Regions from separate parts of the Homo sapiens genome. Here region 1 is linked to region 2. The links come from fine-mapping of genetic effects on gene expression. Tissue or cell type: whole blood. Region 2 holds a variant in brackets; the other region holds the start of a gene. All regions are shown on one strand. Distances are between the middles of the regions.

Region 1 (8,107 bases), 150 kb before region 2:
CAATTTACTCTCTGGTTTGTAATTCTAAAACAATTTTTAAGTATTTTTCCCCCACTGACTCTGGGAAAGTTATAAGAAGGCTGGGGCAGGTCAGGTAATCCATTCGGCAACAAACATTTCTTGAGTGTCAACTATTTGCCAAATGACGTTTCAGGGACAGATACATCCCAAAGGACATTCCAGGGATAGATACATCTGTGAGCGAAACAAACAAACAAATACCCTCTGGGCATTCATATTCTAGTAAAATAAAATGGATAATTAAATATTCTAAATAAGTAAAGCATGCTACTTTAATTACACATGTTAAGTAAAACTTTAAAATCCAAGATTCTCTACAAAATGCTGTTTCTCATTTTGTTCAACATTTCTTCCAACACTTCTCAGAAATATTGTCAAAATGGCCTAATCAAATACTTTTGAACAATGAAATATTTGCAATCTACTTGAGTAATAAAATTCACTTCGATTTTCCTTACTGTAATTACACAGTTTTGAAAGTACCAGTGTCATTCTTACAATGAAGATTTCAAGAGAAAGTGACTACAATGGCTGTAAGATTATGCTTTGAGTTTTTGTCAAATCAACTTTGCAAATCAACTCCAATCTTATTTGACAGGTACTTTATGGTTTCCATTCAAATCAATTCTCTGAAATGTTTCTCATACTTGACTTCAGTATCACATATCATTCCTTGCATAAGATTTAAAGTAGCTGGTAAATATATTAGAGATATTACAAATGAGTTTATAAATATTAAACAGTTAATCTCTAAATTAACTCTATTACGCTATCCAGGTAACCCTGTAGATAACTTGAAAAAAATTAAGATAACTTGATATCTGACAAACTAAATTTCAAAGATTCAGACAATCATAGATATGTATACATAAGCCCCCAAAAAAATCATCTGCACCCACTCTCAACACTGTAATAATGCTTTTCACAAACACATTCAAATATCATTTATATGCTAATTACCTATGAAAATTTAAGCAGGTATATTCACTTAAAGAAGCATAGCGGTCAACTATAAAAAAATAGGAGTCAACTATAAAATCTTCATTTGAATGATAAAGTTAATTTTTTTATATATTTTCTTAAGTATTTGTCTCAACATCCATTGGATGAAGTATAAAGTGAAACAAAGAAAATAAACTTCATTTTCCCAAGCTGGAGGAAATTAAGCCTTAAAATTTTACATATTCGAAATAACAACAAAAATCTAATTCGAATATAGCTGGGTGAATAGGATATCAAGAAATTACTCAAATGGTTTACCTCACAAAATACACTGAAAAAGGTAGTTTTCCCATACAGACTAATGTTTGAGTATTTAAAAATATCCCATCCATAAAGTTGACACTATATTTAGGCATCAATATCAAATTGTGTGTGTGCTTGTGTTTTTAATTTTATTCACATATCAGTGTCCTTTGTTATTGGTTAATAGCACAGAGTACGCATTTTGAGTGAATTCTTGAAGACTGAGTTAGGATGGATGTACTCTTTACCATATATGATCACCTACTTTCCCTTTTGATTAATGAGAGTTACATATTTGAAGAACAGATATGATTAGGGTAGTCCACAGCCACAGACCAAAATGACTCTGTATAGCCTCAAGGCGACTTGCACCAAGAAAAAGCTTATTTTCATATTTGGTCACAGCACAACTAATACTGAAAAGAAAAATCCAGGCACAGAATTTACATCCCTGCAAGGATCACAGCATTTTAAAGGTGCAAGGACAGAGCATTTTAAACATTTAAGCAATGCAAACGGTGCATTTGTTGTATCATCTCCAAAAAGCCCTGGCCATCACAGCTCTGTCAATAAGTGTATGTCAAAGTCATATTTCTTACGCAGATGTTCAGAGGTGATGACACGATCGTATTTAAAAGAAAAAAAAATCCTCCCAGAAAGTCTATGTGAAATTATATATCTACAAGAGAGCTTATCAAGAGGAGTAAAGTAAAAGATAGAAGACGAAAAGACTCAGGAACTGTCCTAACACTCAAGAATTTTCTAGATCTTCTATATATGACTGAAATCTTGTAGAAGAAATGATTCCAAGTCCCGCAGGGAAACTTCTTTATCTTAGCAGTCCCTCAGAAATCTTCTTTTAATCCAGATGGAATGATCAGTTATTGCTTCAAAAGCCTTATGAAGATACAAAAATGGGGAAAAGCTGATGCTAGAAAAGGGGAAGAGATGCCTGCTCACTTCAGACACTATGCCATCTGGAGTGAGTTCCCTCTTATTTTATTCCTCTCCTTTTTGCTGAAAATCCTGCCCATCTCTGGAGATAGCTCAAGCTCTACCTCTTCCACAGAGATGGTCCGTGTTATTGCAGCCCACACACATCTTGCCAGTGGGAACAATTCCTGTAAAGTTTAACTGGGTACACCAACATACCTCATAAATATTTATAACATTCTCTTGTTTTATACTAATTTCTTGAGGTCCTCCTTCTTCTACTTTGTAATTTTTTAAACCTCATGCAATGCTTAATAACACTTAAAGTGTGTATTAGAAGTGTGACCATTAGCCATTCTGCCCAGGCTAATAAGGTGCACAAATGACATCACAAACCCTTCAGAGTCTAAAATGAAGCGGCTCACAGATCTGTGCAAGTTCTCCAGCTAAGTCCATATCTTCTTAAGCTGAGTCAGAGGTAAAAATTGGAGAAAAATCAGCTTCTGTCAAATAGGCAAGGGGAAGATCCTGGGAATATCATCTGCCATTTTTGGGCTCCAGTGTCCCTCCGTGGCTAAGAGGACTATCGGGAATCAGATTGCCTAATTCTAAGTCCCAGCCACACTCCTATGTAAATCAGTTAACCAATCTGACCCTCAATTTCCCCGTATGCAAAACTGATGGTGTCTATGACATCAGGTTGTGGCCAAAATAAAGTGAGATACTGCAGTCACAGAAAAAATTAGCACAGCGCCTATAACATTAGGCACTTTTGATATAAGATAACAACATTGACAGCTTATCTATAAAATGTGTGAGCTGACCTAGGTTATCCTTAAGATCTCTTCTCGCTCATATTCTATGCCCCTGTAAGAATAGGGACCAGAAATGTCAGAAAGGAGTGTCCCCTCCAGCCATCCCTTGAACAAATGACAGCCTCTAGGAGGCAATTCTTTGATGATTAGCAGGACGGGAGGCTACGCGGCCTGGGCCCTGTCCCCGTTACAGGGTGTCTCCCTTCACCTTCACCACCGCCACCCCTTATGCCAGCATTGTCTGAGCGCCTACTGGGTGCCGGAACCAGCCTCGGCCCTTGGAGGCTCACACGGACGGGGAGGGGGCAGGCAACACTCACTTGTTCCTGCGGATCCACTCGATGAGGGCGCGCACCTCGGGCACCTCGTCCAGGGCGGGGGGTTCGCCGGTGCTAAACTGGTCGGGAAAGCTTCGGTTGAGGTCGCGGCCGCGACTATTGTCGCGGCCGCTGGCCCCGGACGGGCCGCCGTCGCCGAAGCCACAGTCGCCCTCGCGGGCACGCTCGAAGCCATCGGGGTTGAGGCTGGGCAGCAGGTACACGTCGGTGGTGTTGAGCAGGCGGACCAGGCGCGGGTCCCCGCGGCGGTAGCCGGCCGCCAGCTCGCGGGCCAAGTAGATCAACACCTGGCGCGACACGGTCTCGTCGCCATGCATGTTGCCCACCAGCTTCACCTGGGGCCGGCCGGGCAGCAGCGGCCCCGCAGCGTCGGGCCCGGCAGCGTCAGGCCCCGCGTCGCCCTCAGGGATTAGCGACCCCAGGCCGGCGGTGAGGCGAAGCACCCACAGCGGCCGGCCTTCCACCGAGCGGCCGATGCTAAAGAGGCGGGCCAGGCCGGGGAGGCCCGCGGCCGCCGCCTCCCTCAGCGCCGACTCCAACTCCTCTTCGTGGTAGTAGCGGTCGAACTGGCCCTCGGCCGCCTCGGCGCCCGCGCTCGTAGTTGTGGTAGTCGCCTCCGCCTTCTTGATGTGAGCCGCCCGGGCCGAGCTCCCCAGCAGCAGCAGGCACATGAGCAACAGGAGCCGCCCTAGCCGCCAAGGCGGCCGCTCGTCCCGGCCGCTCGCCATCTTCCAGCAGCGCCGCTAACCCCGGCTCCGCTCCCGCGGCTCAGCGCTCCGGGCGGCGGGGGCCCGCCGGATCCCCTCCTCGCCTAGCAACCCCATCCCGCCCTCTGGCCGCAGCCAATCGCGGACGGGCCTGGTGGAGCGTCACCACCAGGGGGCGGGGCTTCCCTTAAAGCAGCCGATTCCCTCTGGGCGGGCCTGCCCTCCTCCCGTCCGGGACGAGTTTGGTCACTCTCTTCCTTCGCCAAGGTTCTTCTTCTCTTCTCCTCCTCCTTGTTTCGTCTTCTGCGTGTGCTCCGCTTCTCGCTTAGTCTCTTCTTTATGGCTTCTCCCCTAAATTATCACCCATTTTTCTCTGAGAACTCCTGCTAGTTCTCTTCCCATCTTTGTTGCTGCCTTTCTCAGCTGCGCTTTAATGCTTAGAACCGAGAATGGAAAGAATCAAAAGGTTCGAAAGAATCATAAGACTAGAAAAAATCAATAGGTTCGAAAGAATCTTCGTTCGGACACTCAAAGCCTTAGCCCAGTCTCCTAGGCGCCTTGTCTCCGCATCCACCCCGCCTCCGCTGGAGCCCCGCTGTCCGCGTGCGGTTGCACGGGACGCCTCGTGGGGAGGAAGGCTCGCACCTCACTAGGCGGTGCATTCATTTTTAGAGTTGCTTTCTGGAAAGGTGTCTCTTTTATGCCTAGCGGAAATGTGCTACGTAGTAGGCTCCCTTTGTGTTAATGTTGTCTATTTCTTAGGCGTCACCCCACGTTGTTTTACTGCAAATAGGTCCCTGTGTGTGCTGGCCTCGACCCTCATTAGGCAGATTTCATTTCACAGCTCACCGGCCCACTTCTCCCACCTCATCGGAGCAAGTTGTATATTTAACTGTGCCCTGGAATGACATATTTTAAAACAGCAGGTTTGACATTTCTGGAAACACTTGCTTGGCATTCCTGAACTCCTCAGTGTCAGCCAAAGATGGCAATTACAGCGTTTCATCAAGTCTAGAGAAGAGGTCTTTTAAATCACCTTTTATAGGCTTTAGTTTCTTTAGCTTGAAGAAACCCAAAACTATCCCTTAATCGAATGCGAAATTCTACCCATCTAACAACATAATCGCAATAACCGGCATTACCTTCTTTCAGAGCCAGCTATTTCAGGGCCCCTTCCCTGAACTATGACTGAACCCTACTTTAATAGAGTTCATTCATTCGTCAAGTATTTATTGAGCAACTTTTATGTCAAAGCTAGATGCTGGGAAACAATTCATTCTTCTGCCCAGTCAAGAGATTCAGTGTAGTTTGTGATAAATGCTACAACAGAGGGGGTACAGGTGAGGGAAATATCTGAACTTGAGGAGGAGGAAAGGAGGAGAGAAACCATGGAGGATGGGAAGGATCCCAGGCAGGAGGAGAAGCAAGCAAAGAAAGCCGCAGGATTTGAGAACAAATGCCTTGTGTTCTGGGAATTGCATGCAGGGTCAGGATTACTGGTGTGAAGGGGCTCACAGGCCAGTCTTCAGGGAGCACATTTGATCTGGAAGGCCATGGAGAACCACAGACGGGTTTTAAGCTAGTTTAGAAAAATTCCTCTGACAGTAACACGGAAAATTGAATGGGAGGCCTAAGACTTGAGGCTGAGAGACCTGGAAGGAAGCTGCAATCCAGGAAGACATGATGAGACTCTGAATGAGGGCAGTGCCAGTGGAGGTGGAAAGAAGGAAATGGATCTGAAAGACCTTCGGAAAGGAAAGTGGACAGGATCTGGAGACAAAGAGGATTGTAGGCTGACTTCAAGTTACAGCCTAAGCAACTTGCAGGTATTCACTGAGGTACAGGCCAGGAGAAAGCACAGGTTTAGGTGAAGATGATTAATTTAGTATTCTGCCATCAGAGCGAGCACCGTCACTCCGGTCCTGTGAATGGCTCTTCTCCATGCCCCATTTGATCTAGTCTACATTATGCACAGCAGCTGCAACTCATCAGAAACAAAGCCACAACTCTGTACAGAGAGACCGCCCACCACCTCCCGGGAGTGCTCAACTATTACACCATGCACTTTTACAGTAATCCAAGTCAAAGAAGCCCCAGAGGACATGTTAACTTCTAATCAAATATTTCCTTTTCTACCACGTTCACTCTCCTTTGAAACCTCTTCCAGCCCCTTCACTCCTGCAGCCTCGCCTAGAGAGGCAGCCTGAAATGTAAATAAACAAGCATGAGGGTGGTGAAATAATATGGGAATGTAACTTGAGCCGGTGTCCTCTCAGAAATCCCCAGGCCTTCCGTGGGCCTCTTTCAGGTCTGCAGCCTTCTTCCTTAGCAGGTACACAGTTGCTTATGGTTATAAGTGAAACCCAAAGCTCTGGACCTCAGTCACTTTTGTGTTTACCTACAGGTTTGTGTTTACCTACAGCTGAATACCTCCAATTGTGTCTGAGAAGTCTTGAACCTTATGACAGGTGTTTCTTTCCTCTTTCCCCAAGGAAAAGGTGTGGCCTTACAAATGGAAGGGACTTGGGAAAGGCTTGAAGGTAAAAAGGCTTCCTGTTCACAGAAGCAGAGTGGCAATGACTTGGATTTTTTTTTTTAATTTTTGTATTTGATACATGATAATTGTACATATTTATGGGATACATTTGATATTTTGATACATGCATACAATATATTATGATCAAACCAGGACATTCTGGATAGCCATCACCTCATTTAGCTCAAAGAGATTTGAAATGTTTCTAGCACCAAGAAATGACAAAGAATTGACGTGGATTTTTTAAAAACAGGGCAAAAGCTTTTAGATGACCAGCCTGATTCAAGAACCATTTTCTTCACAAGATTCGTAGGTAATTAAAGCATAGCATAGACCGGGAACTTGTAAGTGTCTCATTGTCCAGCACAAACACCTGCAGATTTACAAATTCAATTTGACAAATGTTTGTGGAGCACCCAATCTGGCGAAAGGTCTGTTGTGCCAGGTACAGGAGGATTGGAAAATGAATGAAGGGGATCTCTCCCCTCCCAGAGGACAGAATCTAGGAAGGGACACAGAACATAGACACAACACAGGACTGGATGTGTCTGCTGGACAAGAGTTACATAACAGGCACTGTGCAAAACCCTTTACATTGGTTGACTCATTTCATCTTCACAACAGTCCTATGAGGCTGGTGCTATTATCATTCCCATTTCAAAGATAAAGAGAGGAGACATGAGGTCACACAGCTGGCAAGCCACAGATCCAAGACTCAAACCTGGGGAGTGTGACTTCAGAGTCTGTGTGCTTAAATTCTGTAATAAAACTGTTTCTATATAGTAAGCTTAAAAAAACAAAAAACAAAAACCTGTTTTTGGAACACACAAAAGCCATTATAATGAAGAGTCACCTCCCTCGGTGGCTCAAGCCTGTAATCCCAGCACTTTGGGAGGCCGAGGCGGGCAGGTCACCTGAGGTCAGGAGTTCAAGACCAGCCCGGTCAACATGGTGAAACCCCGTCTCTACTAAAAATACAAAATAAATAAATAAAAGAAATTAAAAATAAAAATAATGAAGAGTCAGAGAAAACGTCACCAATACTGCTTGATCATGCTCTTCAACAGCAGAACCAAGTTCAAATCCTGGATCAGTCCCTTTTCAGCCATTGTAACCAGGGCAAGTTACTTCATTTCTCTGAAAATTAAAAGAAATAATACATACATAACATTTAATATAATACTTGGCATATAACAAGCGTTCAGAAATCACCGTTATTTCTATTGTTTTTAATAATAGAAATTCTCAAATGGTAAAAATGGAGAAAAGAGCACTCCAGGCAGAGAGACCAGCAAGGATAGATGCACAGAGAGGGATTTCGTGACTGGTGGCTGGAATACAAGATGTGTTAGGAAGAGCAGCAGAAGCCATGCCTGCAAAGACTAGAAGTAGATGAAGGCTTTGAATACCACACTAATGGGGTTTTGCTTTATTCCAAAGCAAATGGAAAACTTACAGAGCTGTTTGTGAGGAGGAATGGTGTGGATCGCACCTGTGTTTTAGCAAGAAAAT
Region 2 (8,107 bases):
ATATAAACTATATGTATCTGTATGTATACCTACAGATATATATAGTGTGTATATATATATCTGTAGGTATACATACAGGTATATATATACTATATATATAGGTTCAACTAATATATATAGTTGAACCTTTGAGAGTTTGCAGACTTCCAGATACTTCTTCCTTAAATACTTCAACACAGATTTCCAACAAACAAGGACCTTCTTGTACGTAACCACAGCGCCATTTTCATGCTGGGGAAACTGGAGATAGATACAATACTATTATCGCACATACAGCTCATATTCCCATTTCCCCCGCTGTCTCAATGATGTCCTTTTTAGCATACAGTGTTACTCTGTGAGACTGTAAACTAGGGGTCAGAAAGTTTTTCTTGCTCTCATCTCAGTGCATATCTGAGAACTAGACTGGTGCAATGATGTGTAAGGATGAACTGATTTTTCATGAGTGTCTCCAACTGTGTGACTCACACTAAAGCACATCTCAGAAATTGTTGACCTAAGAGTATAGGCACCTTTGAGCAGCAACAGCCAAACTCCAAACACCTTGTGGCTGAAGAGGTGGTTGCACGTGTCCTCCGCGCCCCCTCTCCACCTGGATGCACCCGTCTCCTCCAGCAGCCTCACCTCACCTGACCTCACCTCTCCTTCTCCCCTCCATGCCCCACCCAGAGAAATGGGCCAGTTTCCCCTCTCTTTTCTCTTCTCCACTCCCATTTTATTTTGTAGTTCCACTTCAAACCCCCTTTTCCCCACTTCCCTCTTCCGCCTTGCTCAGCAGCCACAGGTGAATCCACCCTTATTTCATAGCACCCTCTCCCTGGGGTTGTTTTTTCCTCTCTTCTCTCTGTTTTGGGTCCCTTTGTGGACCCAATCATGTCTGTTTTACACAAAGGTAATCTTAGTAACATACCTGTATAAAGGAAAAGAAAAGCTGTGTGTGGACATGTTCCCATGTGTTCTATCTCGATTTTTACTTATTGCATAAATTGTATTTATCACAACAGTAAAGGAGTGTTTGGAAGGTGAAGTGACACTCCTAATCCTGATTAATCTAACACATCATCTGTTTTGAGTTTCTCAAGTCTCTTTCCCAGCCTCGTCCACATTTAAATATACTATGGTAACAGAGTAAAAGCAGTTTTGTTTTCTGCAAAAAGTTGTAAGTTGTGAAATTATGTGTCACAAGCAATTCATGTCACCAACTTCTTCTTCTTCCTCTTCCTCTTCCTCCTCCTCCTCCTCCTCCTCCTCCTCTTCCTCTTCCTCTTCCTCTTCCTCCTCTTCTTCTTCTTCTTCTTCTTCTTCTTCTTCTTCTTCTTCTTCTTCTTCTTTCTTCTTTTTCTTCTTCTTCTTTTTTGAGATGGAGTTTCGCTCCTGTTGTCCAGGCTGGAGTGCAATGGCCCGATCTCAGCTCACCACAACCTCTGCCTCCTGGGTTCAAGCTATTCTCCTGCCTCAGCCTCTAAAAGGCTGGTATTACAGGCATGCGCCACCATGCCTGGCTAATTTTTGTATTTTTAGTAGAGACAGGGTTTCTCCATGTTGATCAGGCTGGTCTCGAACTCTGACCTCAGGTGATCCGCCCACCTTGGCCTCCCAAAGTGCTGGGATTACAGGCATGTGACACTGCGCCCAGCCCATGTCATCAACTTCTAAAGAACTTGGACCAGGCGCAGTGGCTCATGCTGTAATCTCAGCACTTTGGGAGGCTGAGGCAGGAGGATCGCTGGAGTCCAGGAGTTCAAGACCAGCCTGGGCAACATAGCGAGATCTCATCTCTACTGTGTATTTTAAAATTGAACAACAAACAAAACTAAAGACCTCAAAAGTGCCTAAAAGACACCTCCGTGGAATCTGTACAAGGATCTCCCTGCTCCTTGTTCTTCTTTCCTTAAATTTAGTTTTCCTTAAGAACCAAAAAGAAGGTTAAAATAAAGAAAGAACTTCGAATCAGTCTCATTGTCAGCCCCCTCCCCACCCCTAAGCCGTCGTGTAGCACTTAACAACGCTGTGTTCTACAGCTTTCGTTTCAGATGTTTTAGTTTATCACATTTATTTCTGTGGGTTAGGAAATATATTCTAAGTTCCAAACCACCAGCTCACAGATGAACATTTGGAGCCCAGACCGCTGATGGGTGTGCCTGCCAGTACTTGTTTCAAAGTCTGAAAGCCCATCCCGGGCTCTTTAATCCTGGGCATGTCAGTCTCTTCCTGTCCATAGTCCATGAAAATGACTGTTAAGGCAGCCCTCCTCCTCTGCCCACAAGATGCACAGCCAATCTTCCCGATGGGTGAGGCAGGGAGGGACAGGGCCCCTTAGAATAGAACCCTGATCCCATTTGACTTAACTCCAGGGAGGAGAGAAAGAGCAGCACCTCACATGGAGCTCAGATCTGTTGGCACCCTCGCCCAGTCAGGAAACCCAAAACAAGCCCTCCATGCTGAGAGCTGTACAGGGCGTGCTCCAGTCTGCAAGTATTTGGACTCAGGGACGTGTAGCCATAGCCCCTGCTTCCAGGGGCACACGAAGCAAATGTATATAAAAGGATAACTAATGATGCCTGGTAATCAATGGCGAGTGACAAATGAGAATTGAGTAGAAAGAGTGTATCTTGGGCTGGAGTGCTGAGAGGAGGTGGATAGAAGCTTATGCCAGGCCTTGGAGGGTGCAGGATAATTAGAGGAAGGGAAGCTACAGGTGGGGACGCACACGGCACTGTTGGTGCCTACTGGCCCCTGAATAACCTGCGGTATTTGTTAAAAACTGCAGATCCCTGAGTGCCCACGTGGATCTCTTGAATTAGAATCTCTGGGAGAGCAGCCCAGGAGTCTGTTTCCCAGGTGACCCCAAGCACTGATTGAGAGCAGCAAGCATGACCCAGTGAGGCCCGTGCTGGGAGCCACAGATCACTTAAGTCCCAAGTCTTGTGGGCCTCAGTTTCCCTGCTAGGGTATGAAGTAGAAAGGCACAATGGGTTGCGGATGTATGGTGGTGATAGTGACATCAACTCACTGTCATTTATTGATGCTTCCCTGTGCTAGACACTGAGATAAGCATGTGTCATACTTTAATTCCCACGACAGCCTTTAGGAAGTAGCGGTTTTAACAGTCTGCTTTTACACAGGAGGAAATGGAAGCTAAGAGAGGTTAAGTGACCTACTCAAAGTCACACAGCCATTAAGTGGTGGACCAGGGATTCCAGTGCAGACCTGAAACAGAAAGGAGAGCTATGGGTTGTGAACAGAGGAACTAATGAAAGATGACTCTGGAAGGAAGTTAGTCTGGGCTTGGCTGTTTATATTCACTGGAGGAGGGCTGTTCACATCTGCTATGCTAAATTCATTTCTTTCTAGTAAAGTCAAAATAAATAATCCAGTATCCTTTTGGCCAGCCTCTCAGGGGGACCTTGACCCCATCACAAGGGGCATATCCTCTAGATTTTATACTCTGTGTAGAGAGAAGCCCAGGGCTATCCTCTCCCAGGCAGGGAAAGTTCTGGACAGAAATTCTTTTTCTTTCTCATGATAACTGGCCCAAATGGCCCTGAGGATTTTATCCTATTTAATTCCTCTCCAAAAAATTAAACCAGGCTGGGTGCAGTGGATCATGCCTGTAATCCCAGCACTTTGGGAGGCCAAGGCGGGAGGATTGCTCATAGGCCAGGAGTTCAAGACCAACCTGGGCAACATGGTGAAACCCCATCTCTGAAAA[A/T]AATACAAAAAATTAGCTGGGTGTGGTGGCACACACCTGTAATCTCAGCTACTCGGGAGCCTGAGGTGGGAGGATTCCTTGAGCCCGGGAGGTTGAGGCTGCAGAGAGCCATGATCATGCCACTGCACTCCAGCCTGGATGACAGTGCAAGACTCTGTCTCTTAAAAAAACAACACACACACACACACAAACACACACACAAAGGAACAGAAAAAACACTAAACTGACTCTGTCATATGAGGAATCCTTTGGATAAGGAGATGGCTGTGATAGTGGAGTTCATTTCTACCCTTTTTGTCCAAAAAAAAAACAAGCAGATTTTCTCTATTCTCTTCATTTCTATCATGAAATCTCTTCAATTCATTGGAAAGGCAAGGCAGGAGTCCCTATGGCTTCCGACCTGTGCCCCCATGACCCTGCACACTTCGGGAACACAGCAGTGCCTTCAGCAGATGCAAACGTGAGCCCCCATTTTACACTGCAGAGCCTGCAAGGAAGGATCAGCCAACAGCCAAGGTCCTGTGAGAGAAACTGTGCAATAGCAGCAAAGGAAGACTTAAAGCCTGGGGGCAACTGTGGTGCAAAACATGTGAGCTATCTAAACACGCCGCGGCGAGCCAGCGGCAGCCTCTGTTCACCACGGGATGTGTGGCAGCACCAGCCTCTCCAGAAGCATCGTGTTTTTCCTAGCAGTTGGTTTTCTTTTTCAGATTTTAGGCTTGGCCTGTGGACTCCATGCAGGCAGGACTGTGCCTGCCTTGTTTCTTTTTTCTTTCTTTTTCTTTTTTTTTTGAGACAGAGTCTCACTCTATCGCCCAGGCTGGAGCGCAGTTTGGCTGACTGTAACCTCTGCCTCCCAGGTTCAGGCGATTCTCATGCATCAGTCTTCTGAGTAGCTGGGATTACAGACATGCACCACCACGCCCGGCTCATTTTTTGTATTTTTATTTTTATTTATTTATTTGAGACAGAGTTTCACTCTTGTCACTCAGGCTGAAGTGTAGTGGCTCAATCTCAGCTCACTGCAACCTCCGCTTCCTGGGTTCAGGCAATTCTCCTGCCTCAGCCTCACAAGTAGCTGAGATTACAGGCACCCGCCACCACACCCAGCTACTTTTTGTATTTTTAGTAGAGACAGGATTTCACCATGCTGGCCACGCTGGTCTCAAACTCCTGACCTCAGGTGATCCGCCCGCCTTGGCTTCCCAAAGTGCTGGGATTACAGGCGTGAGCCAGCTGGCCCGGCTTGCCTGCCTTGTTTCTGAGGAGCCGAGCACATGTGGGCCTACGCACATCTTTGCTGAGGGAGTGCTTCTCCATGAAGAAGGCCAGATTCCATGTTTACTGCTTCGGGCGGCACCAGCGTTCCATAATTCCCATCACTCTTGGGAGATGCCCTGGGAACTTCAGCCTCCCTCTGAATAGAGGATACGAACTGCCAGTTGGCTCTATGACCTGTAACTAATCCTATCTCAACGTTAAACCCACAGTTCATTTGTTTTTGTTTGTTTTGAGAAAGAAAGTTGAGTTTCCTGAGAAATGAACTCACTTTGATCTTGACACATGAAGTCAAAGTTCAACATTTCTGTAGTGTCTTTCTGCTTAGAAGGCACTGATAGGCATCAAGTAGATGGAGCGTCACAGGCATTTCCAAAGGGCTGGGTGTTTATGACCAATCGGGATAATTACATGCTTGTTCAGGTACGGGTTGCTCCTGGCTATAGAGACAAAGTGTGTGGAAAGAGGAATGGAGATTCGATCAGAAGTTTAAATAGAAACAGTCCTTTTTTACTTGGAGTCAGGGATTGGGGGAATGGAGTGCATTAGCTTCAGGAGAGTTAAGAGAAAGTCAACCACTCCCATTGGCTGGTCAACTGCACCCCTCATGTGCAGAGACCTAGGGGGACGAAGCTTCTGTCTGCCAGCTGTCATTCCACAGCAGAGGTGGGGTCCACGGCACCACCCTCAGCCTGTCACCAGCTCAGCCTGGAACAACAGCACACATCCAAGATGCAAAGGAAGGCTTCCTTCTGGGGCTTTTTCTGGACATGGAGAAACTCAAAGACTGCCTGGAGAAGGTCACAGCTGTAATATTGACCTCGTTTGCAATCTTTCCACCCAGCAGGATAAAAATACCTTTTAAAAAAAGAAAGCTTAGAAGAGGGCATTCTCAGAAACCAACCTTCTTAACAACTCACACTTCTCTATTCCTGGGCCAGCTTGTTTTCAGCCATTGTTATGTGCAAGTCTTGATAGAAAAAGCCAGCCAGGGCTCTGCAGAATCAGAAAAAATAGGAAGAGAGTCTGGGGCTCCACAGGCAGGAGCTTGCAGGCAGAAAGGGCCCCGGGCACATGGCATCTTCTCCTGGCAGACCCGATTAGTCACCGAGAGGAGTTTTCCTCTACCTGGCAGAGGCAGAGGAGTAAGTTAAGAAAAGGAGATGTGTGTCTCCTCTGAGTGGCTGTAACTTTGTGTTTGCACCCCAGATTCTATGATGAGGGTGGGGGTTCAGTAGGAGAACCCCAGAAAGCACAGCTGGATAGAGAGAGACAGCCTGTGGGGAGAGGCTGCCCGGTCATGAGTTGTCTGAGGGATGCTCTGGGTTTTCTTGCACTGGGGCCATTTCAGCCTGTTGATGTAAAATTTTTTAATTAAAAAATTAAGAAGAACTAGGGGATATTTCAGGAAACAAGACCTCTGTAATGGCTCAGAACACAAATAGAAACAGCGTATTACTCTTCCAGGAGCTGCTTACCATAGTTGCCAGGAATTCAGGACTGGATGCCTTCGGGGCTGAACCCCTGAGGACTCCTGAGAACACACGTTGCCCTCAAAAATCTACCTACCTGCACACATTTTCTACCCTCTCTGCAGGACGCCTCAAGGAAGAAAGTAAACAAAATCCAGAACAAATCATTTGGCCCCTGAGGCAGGAGGGTAACTGCTCACTGCTGCTGCTAAATGTCTATTTCCTCTCCCCAAAGTATTGCTTCTGAGATGGACCGCATTTCCCTTCCGTAGACCCTCTGGGCCTGGGTAGAGAGGCCAGGGAACGCTTGGGTGATGCAATTGGAGCTTCTATTTAAGTGAGAGGAAAGTGGCAGTACAGAAAATAGAAGAGGTTCTTGCAGAAAATTGTGGGGCCAGGCCAGGCATGGTGTCTCACACCTGTGATCTCAGCTCTTTGGGAGGCCAAGGCGGGTGGATCATGTGAGGTCAGGAGTTCAAGACCATCCTGGCCAACATAGTGAAACCCCATCTCTACTAAAAATATAAAAATTAGCCGGGCATGGTGGAGCACGCCTGTAGTCCCAGCTACTCGGAGGCTGAGGCACAAGAATCGCTTGAACCCGGGAGGCAGAGGTTGCAGTGAGCCAAAATTGTGCCACTGCACACCAGCCTGGGCAACAGAGCAAGACTGTTTCAAAAAAAAAAAAACAAAACTGTGGGGCCAGTGGGAGGAAGAGCAAGGGAAGGAGCAGCTCTGTCAACTCGGTGCCCTCCAGCCGCACAGGGAAAAGCTCTTCCTCCCTGCCATTTGGCCTTCAAGTTCGTCAGTTGTTTAACGTACAAAACATGTCATTGATATAGGCCGGAGGGAAGTACAGAGGCCTTTTTAAACAACACAACCACTGACTACCAAGTTCAGGTTTAATTTAGCTGAATATTTAAATATGTTGACATCTCATCATGTAATAAAATAATAATATCCCTTGGCCTGGTAAATGGTTACCTATGGTGGGTGAGAGGATGTGTGGTTATTTTAAAAGCCTATCAAGCCTAGTTGAGGGCCGAAGGAAGGGGGAAGTGGGGGGAGGCCAAGGCCAGGCAGTAGCATAAATGGTGAGCAGGGTGAGGTTATGGAGACCGCTCTTGTCAGAATTCATATCCTTCTGAGTGGTGTTTGCATTCTTGAGCCTGGGGTGGGTGGCGGAGGGCCCAACAAGTGCGGTACAGCCCAAGACGTCTACCTCCCCTTACACACACACAGCCCCTAGCTACATGAAGCTGATTTATCTCTTGTTGCTGTAGATATTTTTGGCAACAATCGATCCCTTTAAAATTTTTATTTTCCACTTTACAGAAAAAATGCAGCAAACGCCAAACCCTAGTGACTGACATTGCCTGGTGTTCATGTCTAATCCTTGCTCATGTTTATAGCCATAGTCATTCTTGTGAAGCTACTATTTTGTGTCCTGATTTTTCACTTACTATGTTTTTGTCTTCACATGTGTAGGTAGCTAAGTTGCAGTCACCAAAAACCCCAAATAGGTAGGAGACATCCATGCGCCATTTCTATTAGCCAGTTCCTAGCCATCCTCCTAACTGTTGGATCTGGAGGGTTAGCCTCAGATCATTGCAGTTATAAACAGTCCATCCCTGGCTATCTTTTC

Evidence for each region. PIP is the estimated chance that this variant, and not a neighbour inherited with it, causes the effect.
Region 1: it holds the start of CPD, and the variant in region 2 is fine-mapped to the expression of CPD in whole blood (TOPMed, PIP above 0.99).

Annotation. Positions count from the first base shown.
Region 1 is chr17:30,374,954-30,383,060 of GRCh38, reverse strand. It overlaps CPD (carboxypeptidase D), which reads right to left and starts at 4,134. Exons shown (of 21, transcript NM_001304.5): 1 at 3,335-4,134. The coding sequence starts at 4,080. RefSeq lists silencers at 3,659-3,788, 4,089-4,328 and enhancers at 3,306-4,233, 4,379-4,548, 5,819-5,868, 6,119-6,408.
Region 2 is chr17:30,223,270-30,231,376 of GRCh38, reverse strand. All of the region lies in intron 1 of SLC6A4 (solute carrier family 6 member 4), which reads left to right. Among named protein-coding and RNA genes, the nearest start is that of SLC6A4, 8.4 kb to the left of the region's middle. RefSeq lists a silencer at 5,280-5,480. The variant A/T (reference allele first, on the strand shown) is at 3,713.